2 linked regions of the Homo sapiens genome follow. The protein of the gene in region 1 purifies or fractionates together with the protein of each later gene. This does not show direct contact. Each region holds a gene or a part of one and is shown on either strand. Other genes may lie near its edges.

Region 1 (7,863 bases):
TGATAAAACCTCCTATGGGTTTTTTAGCATCGCAACTGCAAACACATTTCCTTCAACCTTGATTGAAGGTGGTTCAGTTCTGGAAAAACTATGGCTTTTCCCACAGAGGGACTAATGAGGCTTGTCTATGAGTAAACATTTGAGTACCAAGTACATTAAAGGCTTGATCCTATGTTTTTAGATAAACAGAAGTATTACTATAACCTCCAGAAAAAGGGTCACTTGATTTTTAGTTGGACAAAAGCAACTTGGGCATTAATTCTATTCTAATAAACAGGAGTTTAAAACATTTTTATTGAAGGTTTGGAACTGGACACACAACTTCTTCCCTGCCTCCTCAGACCCAGAGATCAGCTAAGGGTGACCCCCGTGGCAATGGCAGTGATTTCACCATCCCCAAACTGGGAGAAGTTGGAGGGAGGTAGGAAAGCTTGGAAAGGGTATTAGGAGATGATCTCCTCCTGAACAGATGCCACAGTGAAATTCAGCCATCCAGCCATGCCTGAAATGCTCATGGGCCCCTTGTACTTTACCCCCAGCACATGGCCCTCCTGTCCCTCTCAGGGGTCCCAGAGTTCCCAAGGACCAGCTTCATTGACACAGCCAAGTCCTCAAGTCTCAAGCAGCTTTCTTAGACATAATTGCTTGGGGTGGATGTTAAGTCACATGGTTTGGGAGGCCTTTTTCCTTGCTCAACAGCAGATGCCCCTGTTTAGAGAGAGGTAGCATCTGTCATCAACCAGTGAGGCCAGATGTATCTGTCAAGAGTTCAGGTCTCTAGGTTTGGTGGGCCAGGACAGTTCAGCTGCTCTACTTGTTCATTTGTGGGGTCTCAAAGCCTGACAAGCCGATGGAAGGGATAGCAGAGATGCCGGCAAGTTGGTGACTTTTTCAAAACATCCACCATACCTAAGGGCACAGACCTATCAGGAAACTGGAGTCCTCCAATGTTACACCCCTATACCTCAAGTGCAGCCCAGTGTGGACTTCCAAGGATGCATACCTCCTCTTCTTCATTAACTTTTGCAGCGAGCCTCAAGGAAGTAATTGTGGCGCAATGCAGGTATTTCTCTTTTACCTGCAGTATGGAACAAACACATTTGAGCAGAATATGAATGCCAGAAACAAACTGAAAAGCATCTGTGTTTGTTTTCTTTTATACACTTTTTTGACATGGAGTCTCACTCTGTTGCCCAGGCTGGAGTGCAGTGGCATGATCTTGGCTCACTGCAACCTCCACCTCCTGATTTTGAGCGATTCTCCTGTCACAGCCTCCTGAGTAGCTAGGACTATAGGGGCGGGCCACCACACCTGGCTAATTTTTGTATTTTTAGTAGAGACAGGGTTTCACCATGCTGGCCAGGATGGTCTCCAACTCCTGACCTCAAGTGATCCACACCCCTTGGCCTCCCAAATTGCTGGGATTACAGGCGTGAGCCATTGCGCCCAGCCGTTTGTTTTAATAAGCTTTTTTTTCCCATTTTTAAAAGGCTCAATTTCTCCACAAGACAGAATGTTAGTGCCGTTTTTAGATCTGACCAACGAAGATGCTCCTGATTTCAGAACTGCAGATGACTGGGCAGTATTCCTTCATTTCGGGACTGACTGGAGGTGGGAAATATGGCACCTTCTCAGGGAACCCAGTCTCATCCTAGCCTCAAGCTGCCCTCGACAGGTCGAGACAAGCACATCCTACCTCATTACACAGGAAGCCCTTTCCCAGCTAGGTCCTCTCACGCTCCCCAAGTCCAATCCTGATGACTACATGACCCTGAGACAGCCAGTGTAGGATGTGGAGAGGTTCCAACACCAGCTCTTCCACTCGGAGCAAGTTAGTTTATACACCTTGGTTTTGAGCATCTGGAAACCCTCACCTCTCAAGCAGGAATGGGGAGCAAAGGTTAGTTTCTTCTCTCACCATCTGCCACCGTCCCTCAGAGGCCTCCCTACCTTCACTGAAATCAGGAGGCGGCCAAAGATGGTGAGGGCCAGGTTAAAAGTGGACTGGGAGAAGTAAAAGGTGTTCTGAAGCCGCAGGAGCCACAGCACGACTTCCTCGAAGGCGTCGCAGATTTCATCCTGCTAGGAAGAAGAGCAGGTGGGGCGAGGAAGGTCGCTAGCGGCCACTCCTGGTCCCCCAGCAGCAGGAGCCTCCTGCTTAAGGTGCGGGGGGTGGGGCAGTGAGAAGTCCCTTCCTCTGCATGCCCGCTGGGAGTAAGCGCCCCCCGGCGCAGCGGCTCACCCATCACCCCCACCCCTCGCGCCCACTTTTCGTCGTAGGCTGAGTTCCTTGATTCAAACAGGCCCTCTTCCGAAGGCCCTGCTAGCAAGACGCCCTCCTAGAGAGAAGCTGGTGGATCCAGCCTCGTGCCTCTCGTGAGGGGCCACACCTGGGGAAGGGCCCGGCCTCCAGTTTCAGAACACCCGAGCGCGGGTGCAGGTGGAGGCCACATCCGCCTGCCGTGCACGCGCGAGGAGGGCCACGCGGCAGCGACGGGTACCTGGGGTTTGCCGCCCCGCCACAGGCGCGCCTCGCGGTCCTGGGCCAGCTGCAAGTGGCAGAGCAGCCGGCGCTCGTCCAGGTCGCCTTCCAGGTTGCGCGGCTTGCGGGACTGTGGAGCCGGCCGCGGAGCTTGCTCTGGGGCGGCGGCGGGGACCGCGTCTGCGGTTTTCCCGGCTGGCGCCGTACCGCGCCGGGGCCGCACGGGGACTGCTGCGGACGCCGCGTGGAGGGAGGCCGCTCCGGGCTGGCGGGTCCCAGGGCACCTGCTCCGGTTGCTTCGGGGCAGAGGGGCCTCCCCCGGAGACGGCGGGAGAGGAACGCCCAGGGCTGTTTCCTCCAGACCGGCGCCGGGACGCCCGCCTGGGCTCTGGACGGCGCTGACCTCTGAGCTCGACGGCTGCGGCGGGAGCTGAGCGCCCGAGGCCATGTCGTGAGCGGGATCCTGAGTCTGAGTTGCCGCTTAACCCGGCATTTTATAACCCAGCTCCCGGAACACTGCAGCCTGGGGCGCCGCCGGGGGAGGTGGGGAGGCGGGCTCGGCGGGCCCCACCCACAACGCTCGCGGTGGAGCTACCTCTGGCGCACCGGGCCGCGCCTCGCCTCCTGGGCACTCGCCCCGCGGGTGGGCGGCGCGCACCCAGGATGCGGCAGGACTGGGCGCGCACAGGCGGGTGGCGGACCCCCTCCCTTCCCTCCATCCCCGCTGCTGCCTAGCGCACGCCTCCTCCCCCCTGCCGGCCGTGCTCCCTGAGCAGAGCCCCCAGCCAGGGGTGGGGCGGCTGGAGACTGCGCCCGCCTTGGGCCAGGACTCCCGGACACAGACCCTGGGTCTTACCTCACATTACACACTTGGGGACACAAGACCAGGTAAAGAAGCAGCGAGAGCGCCCTCCTCAGACAGGCTTGAAATGGAATTCCAGACGCGCTGTGTGATCTCATGCATGTGTCGTGACCTCTCAGAGCCTTGGCTACCTCTTCTCCGAAAAAAAAAGTGATAATACCTCCCTCACAAGGTGATTCATTCATATACATATATGTTTATGTATCTATACATACATATATAGCTATAAACGTATAATAAGGAAAATCATACAAATCATATATATGTATACACATACATACATAAATTTTAGGGGTGGATCTTGCTATGTTGCCCAAGCTGGAGTGCAGTGGCTATTCTCAGGTGTGATCGCAGCACACTACAACCTCAAACTCCTGGACTCAAGCTACCCTCAACCTCAGCTTCTCAAGTAGCTGAGACTTACAGGTGCACACCACCACACCTGGCTCCTAAGTTATATTTTGTTTAAAAAATTCATTACATTAAATGTATATTAAAAATATATGGGAATACCAGAAGGACAAGAAAGAGAGGAACAGAAGAAATATTTGAAACAATAACGACTGAGAATGAATATTTCCAAATTAATGCCAAACACCAAACCACAATTCTAGGAAGCTCTGAGAACATTAAGCAAGATAAATGCCAAGAACTACACCTAGACATTCCTATTTAAACCGTAGAAAATCAAAAGAAACTATCAACAGAGTCAGCAGACAACCTATAGAGTGGGAGAAAAGTATTAGCAAAGTAAGCATTCGACAAAGGTCTTAATATCCAGAATCTGTAAGGAATTTAATTAAACAAGCAAAAAACAACCCCATCAAAAAACAGGCAAAAAGACATGAATAGACTTCTCAAAGGGAGATATACAAGTGGTCAACAAACATGAAAAAATGCTCCACATCACTAATCATCAGAGTAATGCATCTCACACCAATCAGAATGGCTACTATTAAAAAGTCAAAAACCAACAGACGCTGGTGAGGCTGCAGGGAAAAGGGAATGCTTATACACTGCTGGTGGTAATGTAAATTAGTTCAGTCACTGTTGAAAGCAGTTTAGAGATTTCTCAAACAACTTAAAACAGTACTATTCAACCCAGCAGTCCCTTTACTGGGTATATACGCAAAAGGAAAATAAATTGTTCTACCATAAAGACACATACATTTGCATGTTCATCACAGTACTAGTCACAGTAGCAAAGACATGGAGTCAACCTAGGTGCCCTTCAGTGATCGACTGGATAAAGAAAATGTGGTACATATACAATATGGAATACTATGTAGTCATTAAAAAGAATGAAATCATGTCCTTTGTAGCAAACATGGATGAAGTTGGAAGCTATTATTCCAAGCAAATGAACACAGGAACAGAAAATTATATACTACATGCTCTCACTTTTAAGCGAGCATTGAGTACACATGGACGTAAAGATGGCAACAGTAGACACTGGAGGCTACCAGAGCGGGGAGGGAAGGAGGGGACAAGGGTTGGATAACTATGGGGTACTGTGCTCAGTACCTGGGTGACAGGATCATTCATACCCCAAATATCAGCATTGCACAATATACCAGAATCTAAAATAAAAGTTGAAAAAAGCCTGCAGGAAATCAAGATTAAAAAAAAAAAATCTCAAAAGAAGCTGGCCTGTAATCTCAGCACTTTGGGAGGCTGAGGTGGGCGGATCACTTGAGGTCAGGAGTTCAAGACCAGCCTGGCCAATATGGTGAAACCCTGTCTCTACTAAAAATACAAAATTAGCCAGGTGTGGTGGCACATGTCTGTAGTCCCCGCTACTCAGGAGGCTGAGGCACAAGAATCGCTTGAATCCAAGAGGTGGAGGTTGCAGTAAACTGAGATCATGCCACTGCACTCCAGCCTGGGTGACAGAGGGAGACTCCATCTCAAAAAAAAGAAAAGAAAAGAAAAAAGAAAGAAAGAAAGAAAGAAAGAGCAAGCAAAGCTGGGAGCAGGAGCTGGGTAGGATGAGGTGGAAATAAGATAAGGTGGGATAAGGATAAGAATCACATTGGACTTGTCTTCGGAAATCATGCAAGCAAGAAGAGAGTGGGGTGAAATATTTAAAATTTTGAGAGAAAACCCCCACCATCCTAGAATTCTGTATTCAGTGAAATTATCCTTCAGAAGTGAAAGAGAAATACTTTTACAAACAAAATTGAAGGTATTTCTCACCAGTAGACCTGCTTTGCAAGAAATGTTAAAAGAAATTTTTCAGAGAGAAGGAAAATGATATAGGTCATAAATTTCGACATAAAGAAAGAACTTTAAGGAATAAGTGAAAGTAAAATAAAACTTTTGTTTTTCTTATTCCTAATTGATCTAATAATCATTTATTCAAAATAATAATAATGTATTTGATGATTGTAGGTTATGGATAAGTTGAATGAATGACAATAATGATACTAGCCATGAGAGGGAAGAATTAAGAATACTTTGTTTTAAGTTACCTGCATTACCTGGAAAGCAGTATAATGTTACTTGAAAGTGGACTTGAATTAGTTATAAATGTATATTGCCAACTCTAGGGCAACCAGCAAAAAAAGTTTTTAAAAAGTATAATTCATATGCACTAAGAAAGGAGAGAAAATGGAATCATATAAAATGCTAATAACACCAGATGGTAGCTTGAATCCACAGGAAACAAGGAAGAGAACGAGAAATAATAAGAAGATTAATATTACAAATTATAAATATAAACTTGGCTCTGTTTTCTTCTCTCGGCTACTTTGGAAGATTTAAAATACATAAAATTTTATAACATAAAGTTATAACAAAGTATTGTTTGGTTTATAACATGTAAATGTAATCCATATAACAATAATAGCACAAAAAGAGGAGGAGGGAATAGAGCTATACGGGAGTTACATTTATATATGTCACTGGAATTCAATTATTATAACTCTGAAGTATTATAGATTCTGATAAGATCTATATTGGAAGCCCTAGAGCTTTTTTTTTTTTTTTTTTTTTTTTTTGAGACGCAGTTTCACTCTGTCACCCAGGCTGGAGTGCAGTGACGTGATCTCAGCTCACTGCAACCTCTGCCTCCCGGGTTCAAGCGATTCTCCTGCCTCAGCCTCCCAAGTAGCTGGGACTACAGGAGCCCACCACCATGCCCAGCTAATTTTGTATTTTTAGTAGAGACGGGGTTTCACCATATTGGCCAAGCTCGTCTCAGACTCCTGACCTTGTGATCCGCCCACTTTGGCCTCCCAAAGTGTTGGGATTACAGGCATGATCCACTGTGCCCGGCCTTTTTTTTTTTTTTTTTTTTTTTTGAGACGAAGTCTTGCTCTGTTGCCCAGGCTGGAGTGCAATGGTGCGATCTTGGCTCACTGCAACCTCCGCCTCCTGGGTTCAAGCGACTCTCCTGCCGCAGCCTCCTGAGTAGCTGGGATTACAGGTGTACGCCACTGTGTCTGGCTAATTTTTCTGTTATTTGTAGAAATGGGGTTTTTCCATGTTGGCAAGGCTGGTCTCGAACTCCTGACGTCAAGCGATTCACCTGCCTCTGTCTCCCAGAGTGCTGGGATTACAGGCATGAGCCACTGGGCCTGCCAAGAAAATAACTTTAAAAAATAGTAAACCAATAATTAAAGAAATTCAAATGTTAAACTATAAAAGATTCACATAATGAAAAACCATTGAAGGAGGAACAGAGGAACAGAAAGACAATATGACGTATTAAAAAACAAAAAGCAGGCTGGGCATGGTGGCTCACTCCTGCAATCCCACCACTTTGGGAGGCTGAGGAGGGAGGACTGCTTGAGCCCAGCTGTTTGAGACCAGCCTGGGCAGCATAGAGAGACCGCGTCTCTACCAAAAAAAAGAAAAAGCAGGGTGTGGTGGCACACACCTGTGGTCCGAGCTACTTAGGAGGCTGAGGCAGGAGGATGGCTTGAGGCTTGAGCCCAGGAAGTTGAGGCTGCAGTGAGCCTTGTTTGTATCATTGCACTCCAGCCTGGGTAACAGAGTGAGGCCCCATCTCAAAAAAGGAAGGAAGAAAGGAGGGATGGAGGGAGGGAGGGAAGGAAGGAAGAAAGGAGGGATGGAGGGAGGGAGGGAGGGAAGGAAGGAAGGAAGAAAGGAGGGATGGAGGGAGGGAAGGAAGGAAGGAAGGAAGGGTGGAAGGGAAAGAGGGAGGGAGGAAGGAAGGGAAAACAAAAAGCAAAATGGGAGACTTAAATCTAATATTATCAATAATAACATTAAATGTGAATGGGCTAAATAATTGTATTAAGTCTGCTAGGGCTGTGTTATGGACGGAATGTTTGTGTCCCTCCCAAATTCATATTTTTTTTTTGTTTGTTTTTTGTTTTTGAGACGGAGTCTTGTTCTGTCGTCCAGGCTGGAGTGCAGTGATGCCATCTCGGCTCACTGAAAGCTCCACCTCTTGGGTTCAAGAGATTCTCCTGCCTCAGCCTCTCGAGTAGTTGGGACTACAGGCACATGCCACCATGCCCGGCTAATTTTTGTATTTTTAGTAGAGACAGGG
Region 2 (7,032 bases), on another chromosome or scaffold:
GTAAATCTATAAGACATAATAATTGCTTTATACAGTTAATATTCACTTAGGTTTATTCATGTATTTATTACTTGTTTTGCTCTGCAGTCCTTTCTGTGTCTCTGATAGGTAAAATCACTTTTATTCTACCCTTTGGGACTTTCTTTCATGAGACTCTGCTGGTGGCCATTTCTCATATTCTACACTCTTACTGAAAGATATTTTTGCAAGGCCTACAATTATCAGTTGATAGTTATTTTCCCTTGGCAAATTAAAGCTATCATTCCAATGTCTATTGGTTGTCACTGTTGGGAAACTAGCTATCAGCTGTCTAATGATTCTTCTTTCTTGAAAGTAATCTCTTTTTTTTCTGGCTAAACTCTGACACCTCTCCTCAGTTCTGTAGAGGTCCTAATTGCCTCTTATAATAATGACTTGGCCCCATTCTCTCTACCCTTTCATTCTGGAACTCTGACTAAATGTATATTTTAGACCTTCTCCGTTATCCTATATTCCAAGTTTCTTGCTTACCTTTTTTTAAAAAAAAAACAAAAACAAATAAAAAGCTTTATAATAAAATCTACTAGATGTTAAATTACAAAACTTGATTAAAACTTACCAACCAATAGCAAAGACTGTAGAAAATCATTCTGTATCCTCTTTTCATATATTCTATTTCTTTGCTACTCTGTGGAAATTTCTGAATAAATTCTTGGGAACAGTCTTCCAATTGACTAATTCTCTAATTCTGTCTAATCTGTTGCTAATCCCTTCAATTGATTTGGTTCTTAATTTTAATCATAATTGTTTTTACTTCCAGTTCTATCGTTATTCTTTAGGATTTCTTCTTCTCTACACATATTTTTATTTCCTTAAACACAGTAAGCCTAGCTACTGCATATTTTGTTTAATAATCTGACTATCTAAATTATTTTAAGGGGCCAGGCATGGTGGCTCACGCCTGTAATCCCAGCACTTTCGGAAGCCGAGGTAAGCAGATCACTTGAGGTCAGGAGTTCGAGACCAGCCTGGCCAACGTGGTGAAACCCCATCTCTACAAAAAACATAAAAAATTAGCCAGGTGTGATGGCACACGCCTGTAATCCCAGCTACTTTGGAGGCTGAGGCAGGAGAATCACTTGAACCTGGGAGGCGGAGGTTGCAGTGAGCTGAGATGGTGCCACTGCACTCCAGCCTGGGTGACGGAGAGAGACTCCATCTCAAAAAAAAAAAAAAAAAAAAAAAAAAGATTATTTTAAGGTATGTTTCTGCTGCCTGTTACTTTTGCTCATTCTCACATGCGAGATCTCACTTTCTTGTTAGATTATTCACTTTATGTGCTGCTAACTTTCCTTGCAATATAATGTGAATAAAGGAGGTCTAAGATAAAGGTGAATATTTTCATACACAAAAAATCTTTATTTTCATATGCTAGGTGTCTGGGAAACTAAGAGACCACAATCACATCAAATTTACAACTAGTGCTTCCTTTAGTCACCCAGAGTATGAACTTGGGTTGCATGAATACAACTTCTAGCCCAATTTTTTCCTCTCTATTCTGCTCAGCACAACCAGAAAAACATTCTGTTTTGTTTTTGTTTTTGTTTTTTGTTTTTTGAGTTAGAGTCTTGTTCTGTCACAAGGCTGGAATGCATTGACGTGATCTCCACTCACTGCAACCTCCACCTCCCGGGTTCAAGTGATTCTCCTGCCTTCAGCCTCCCGAGTAGCTGGGACTACAGGCACGCGCCACCATGTCCAGCTAATTTTTGTATTTTTAGTAGAGATGGGGTTTCATCATGTTGGCCAGATGGTCTCAATCTCTTGACCTCGTGATCCACCCACATCGGCCTCCCGAAGTGCTGGGATTACAGGCGTGAGCCACTGCGCCAGCCAGAAAAATATTCTTTACAGAGTCCCTTGGGGAGCAGGTAGGAAGCAAGTTTAGTTCTTCCACTGTAAGTGTATTCTTTTGGGGTATCTTTTTTCTCCCATAGATTTTTGGGGAACAGGTGGTATTTGGTTACACGAGTAAGTTATTTAGTAGTGATCTGTGAGATCTTGGTGCACTTTTGGGTACCAATTAAATGGGAAAAGGAATCCTATGGGAATCCACAGTTTTGAATGGTCCCTGAGTTTATGGTTTTTACCCGTTTTGGGTAGCTTCTACAAAGGGTCCTAAGGGTAAAACTAAGTTTCAGTACTTCACTTCTGTATAGTTTTATCCTGATAATAACTTACCTAGCATATCTTCAAAGATTTTAAGCAGATATTTTCTTACCTATAAGCCTATCATTTTAGTAGTCTTCAGCAGTAAATATATGCCAAAAACAGAATAAAGCCTTTACTCACTCTTTGGTCCAGTTCAACATAGCTTCTGGATCCACCAAAACTCTTTTTGCAGAGGTCAAAAATGAGTACTAAACTGCCCTATCAATTTGGCATACTTTTCATTCCTATCTAATTCAACCTGTAAAGTTGCTGACACACCTGATTATTTTCTTCTCTTAGAGCCAGCTTTTGACTTCCACAACAACACACTTTCCTATACAACTCCTATATAATCATTCCTCAAGGCTCAGATGAGACAGGTCTTCTCACTTCTATATTTCCTCTGCCACCTGTTTGTCTTGGCCGACCAATTCATCTTCTATATGGACAGCCTGTTAACTGGATTTCTTCTGCCCACTCTTGTCCCTGTACAATCCATTCTGTGCCAAAACAACCAGAGTGATCTATTAAAAATAAAAATTAGATGTCACACTGCCTTTGCAAAACCTAAGGTACTGGATTTGAACTTTAGATAAACTCCACATTATTTAACATGGCGCATAAATGATGACTCCTGCCTATTCATCTATAATTAACATTTTATATAATACCGTAGGCAAACTGACCTTTTTTCCAGTTCCTCAAATACACCAAAATCTTTTCTGCCAGATCCTTGACATTTACTGTTCCCTTTTCCTGGAATACTGTTTCCCTACTCTTTGCTTGGTTATGTCCTACTTCCACTTCAGATTTCACTATTACTGACTTTCTCAGAGGCCTTCCCTGACTACTCAATGAAATAGCATCCTGTTTTTTTCTTTTAGAGTATTTATTGTAATTTGTGATTAAGTACTTATTGTGGGTTTATTTTTAAGTCTGTTCCCCCAGTTAGCTGTAGGTTCTAGGCATGTAGAAACCCTATTTGTTACCTTCTCACTCTGTGCCCAGTTTCTAAGCAGTGTCTGGCACATAGTAAGCACTCAATGAGTATATGTTAAATGACTGATTTCTCTCCCTTTAAGCAGACCCACAGGAAAAGTACAAGTCTAATGAGATACTACATGTAGAAGACAGAATCAGAACCAAAGGGGATGAGTTAAATGATGGGAATGTACATAAGAATCAGGTCAAAGTAAGACATATCTGCAATTATAATGGTTAAAGTTATATAAGCCAAGATTACTTTCCGTTAATATTTAATGAATAAGATCAGCACATGCCTCAAGAACTCAATACATGGCTTTTAATTATTGTCTATAATTTAAGGAAATAATCACCTACAAATAGGATGTTTCTCAAGTTGGCTTACAAATTTGTTACTTGGCAGACTGAAAACATTTCCCACAGAACAAATATTATACACAATGGTTGGGTTCCTTTGGTTAATGCATAATGTTTACTCCATAATTTATTTACCCACAAACATGAATTGAACATTTCTTTGTGCCAGAAACTATTCTAACACTAGAAATACAATAGTAATGAACAAATAGAAAAAAATCCTATTGTCATTGGTATTACATCCATAGTTTTTTCTCCAAGAGAATAAAAGTAAGTAAAATATATAGAATTATAGATAATGATATATGCTATGGTGAAAAACAAAGCTGGGTAAAGGGATAGAGAATGGGGGAAGGATAATTTTAACTGATTATTAGTAGAATGTACTAGTATCTCTGTTCTAAAAGGATTTAAGATAGGTATTACTTACCGAACCTAAGTATTACAAATAAAATAGCAATGCTTACACTAGGAAAGACTTTCAACTGAGAAGCATTATAAAAACACACTTCCTTTCCCACAGCAGTAGGACAGGCAGAGAACTGCTAAGGCTCTAAGTCACGTAACAAGCTATCATAGCCTGAGGCAGGTCCTCCAAGAAGGCAGTGGTTACAGAAGGCTAAAAGCAGTACTGGGGATTCCAGGAAGAAAAGAAATGAGGAGCCAAGAAGGCTAGCACACTTCTTGTTGATGATATGAAGCCCCACCGACAGGCAGTCCCCTCTACTCAGCCACTAATTGGCTAGCTTTTCTTCCTACAACTTTATTTCCAACCAAGATCAGTTTCCTATTTGGCATATAATGTTATATAATTTTCCCTTATTATACCCTCTACTGAAAACAAATATTTAACTATTGGGGCTTTTCTGATAAACTTAATAGCAGAAAAAGATTCCTTTTATCCCCATATCTGTACCATTATAATTCATATTGAAGGAATGCAGATACCTGATAAACTATTCTGGTTCTCTATTTTACCTTAATAACTAGGATAGGAACCAGGATCTGGGATGAAATGCAAGAAGTTAAAAAAAATTAGAACAAGATTGTAAAAAGTAACCCTAGCACCACAGTAATGACTAGACCAAGAGAGATAATCATCCAGTTTAGTCATTTATAGTTTGTCCACAACCATTTCCACTACCTTAGATCATGCACCATAGACTAAGTGGGGAAAACAGAAAGAGGCAAGAAGAGTGCTCTCTAAAGCCACTGGCTCATACAGCTGCGGTGAGAGCCAGGTAAGCAATGAGCATATAAATTAAGCCTGTCCACAGTAACTTGTTTTTATTCTTTCATACGAGAAAGGGCGTTCTCAGTATTGTCACCTAAAACAAAAACAAAAAAAAACAAAACAAAAAAAAAAAAAAACAAGGGTATAAGTCAGTGAGTACTAATTTTCTTTTGTAATTACAGTATTCATCACGCTGTTACTTTCATAAAATAAAACGATTCCTCAGGTGGTAATTATCAGGTATATTTCCAGGAATTTTTCAAGTTAAATACAATGTATTTATATTCAACATTTCATAAAATAGAGCCTCAAGTTTGAGAAAATATAAACAGCAACATACAATCAAAACAAAGCATCAGTAGAAAGATGTTGGCCAGAAACAATTACCTTTATGGCTGTGTGTTTGTTTTCATCTTCTTCCATCCATAGATCCTGTTCATAATAGTATAAGCCATCATTGATAACTTTAGCAAGTTCAGATGTGATTTTTGCCCGAGACATGTGGGTGCCTGTTCGATCTCCTCCAGGATGTTTTTTCACATAAGGTGGTGTCTGAGTTACAATCAAAATCTTGTTTAAGTCTTGGTCATCAATTTCATAATCTGAATCATTATCAGACCAATCAGTAAATGTGTTTTTTCGTCCTATTTGTTCAATCTCTTCATCAAACAAAAAATCAAGTTCTTCTTGTTCTGGTTCTTCTGAAGAACATAGCTGATTTAATGACCCTTCAGGGACAGACACTGATTCCTGAAGGAAGAAATTGGTAATTTATATAAAAAACTTTCTATCATTTTTAAATTAAATGTCATAAAACAGTGTTACAAGTAAGTAATATCAAGCTTTTATGCTCAATTGCTAGTTTAACAGCCAAACTGTAAAAGAAAATCAAGTGAGTATTATTTTGGCCCAGTAAATTTAAGACTAAAGAAAAACACAAAGTTGAATAAAGAAAGGATTACATTAAAGACTCTTTTAGAGTTGGAATAGTCTTAATCATCCATTACATTGCACTGATTCATTTTACTGATTAAAACAAAGGCCTAGAGATATGAAAGTATTTGCCTATGATTTCATAATTATAAACAGAACCAATTATCTGGTTGTGGATTGCTGTATTCCCAGCTACTCGGGAGGCTGAGGCAGGAGAATCGTTTGAACCTGGGAGGCAGGGAGGTTGCAGTGAGCCAAGATCGCGCCATTGCGCTAGAGCCTGGGCGACAAGAGCGAAACTCTGTCTCAAAAAATAAATAGATAGATAGATAGATAGACAGATAGATAGAATCAAGGTCTTCTGATTTTCAGAGTCAATGGTCTTCCCTATTCCGAACCTTTTTACCTCACAATGATAATAACATAGTTTCTGAGCTAATCCCTCTACTCTATCCTCATCCCCATTCTACATGGCCCAGTTTTCATGTCAAATTCATGCTAATATTCAGCAAATGTTAAAATGTCTACCCCTCAGGCCAGGTGCAGTGGCTCACACCTATAATCCCAGCACTTTGGGACGCTGAGGCGGGTGGATCACAAGGTCAGGAGTTCAAGACCAGCCTGGCCAACATGGTGAAACCCCGTCTCTACTAAAAATACAAAAATTAGCCAGGCGTGGTGGCACGCACCTGTAGTCCCAGCTACTCGGGAGGCTGAGGCAGGAGAATTGCTTGAACCTGGGAGCCAGAGGTTGCAGTGAGCCGAGATCACGCCACTGGACTCCAGCCTGGGAGACAGAGCGAGACTCTGTCTGAAGAAAAAAAAAAAAAAAAAAAAAATTGTCTACCCCTTCTATAGAACTTAAAACAGCTAGGCCAGGTGCAGTGGCTCACATCTGTAATCCCAACACTTTGGGAGGCCAAGATGGGCAGATCACCTGAGGCCAGGAGTTCAAGACCTGCCTGGCCAACATGGTGAGACCCCATCTCTACTAAAAATGCAAAAATTACCCAGGTATAGTGGCACACACCTGTAGTCCTAGCTACTCGGGAGGCTGAGACAGGAGAATCGCTTGAACCCTGGAGGCGGAGGCTTGAACCCTGGAGGCGGAGGCTGCAGTGAGCTGAGATTGTGCCACTGTACTCCAGCCTGGGTGACAGAGCGAGACCCCATCTCAAAAAAAAAAAAAAGAACTTAAAACAGTTGTTGGTTTACATTAAAAGTCTAAGCTTTTAGATCCTAGATCTTATAACATGTAAACTAGTTTAAAACTCCCAACAGAAGGAAGTAGTTTCTACTTGGTGTTACATTCATTTTTCGTCCTCTGGCCTATT

The links. The genes of interacting proteins can lie anywhere in the genome.
Region 2: the proteins of CCNI2 (region 1) and LARP1B purify together in Homo sapiens (affinity purification with mass spectrometry; 4 studies listed by BioGRID and IntAct, with this or other methods). This does not show direct contact.

What each region holds. Positions count from the first base shown.
Region 1 is NC_000005.10:132,742,563-132,750,425, reverse strand, and holds the start of CCNI2 (cyclin-I2), read right to left. Parts: upstream 3,001-7,863; 5' UTR 2,931-3,000; coding exon 2,502-2,930; intron 2,083-2,501; coding exon of another isoform or gene 2,080-2,082; coding exon 1,951-2,079; intron 1,079-1,950; coding exon 1,004-1,078; intron 1-1,003.
Region 2 is NC_000004.12:128,120,309-128,127,340, reverse strand, and holds part of LARP1B (la-related protein 1B), read right to left. Parts: intron 5,516-7,032; coding exon 5,153-5,515; coding exon of another isoform or gene 5,108-5,152; exon of another isoform or gene 4,988-5,107; intron 4,860-4,987; coding exon of another isoform or gene 4,827-4,859; exon of another isoform or gene 3,472-4,826; intron 2,715-3,471; coding exon of another isoform or gene 2,646-2,714; exon of another isoform or gene 1,853-2,645; intron 1-1,852.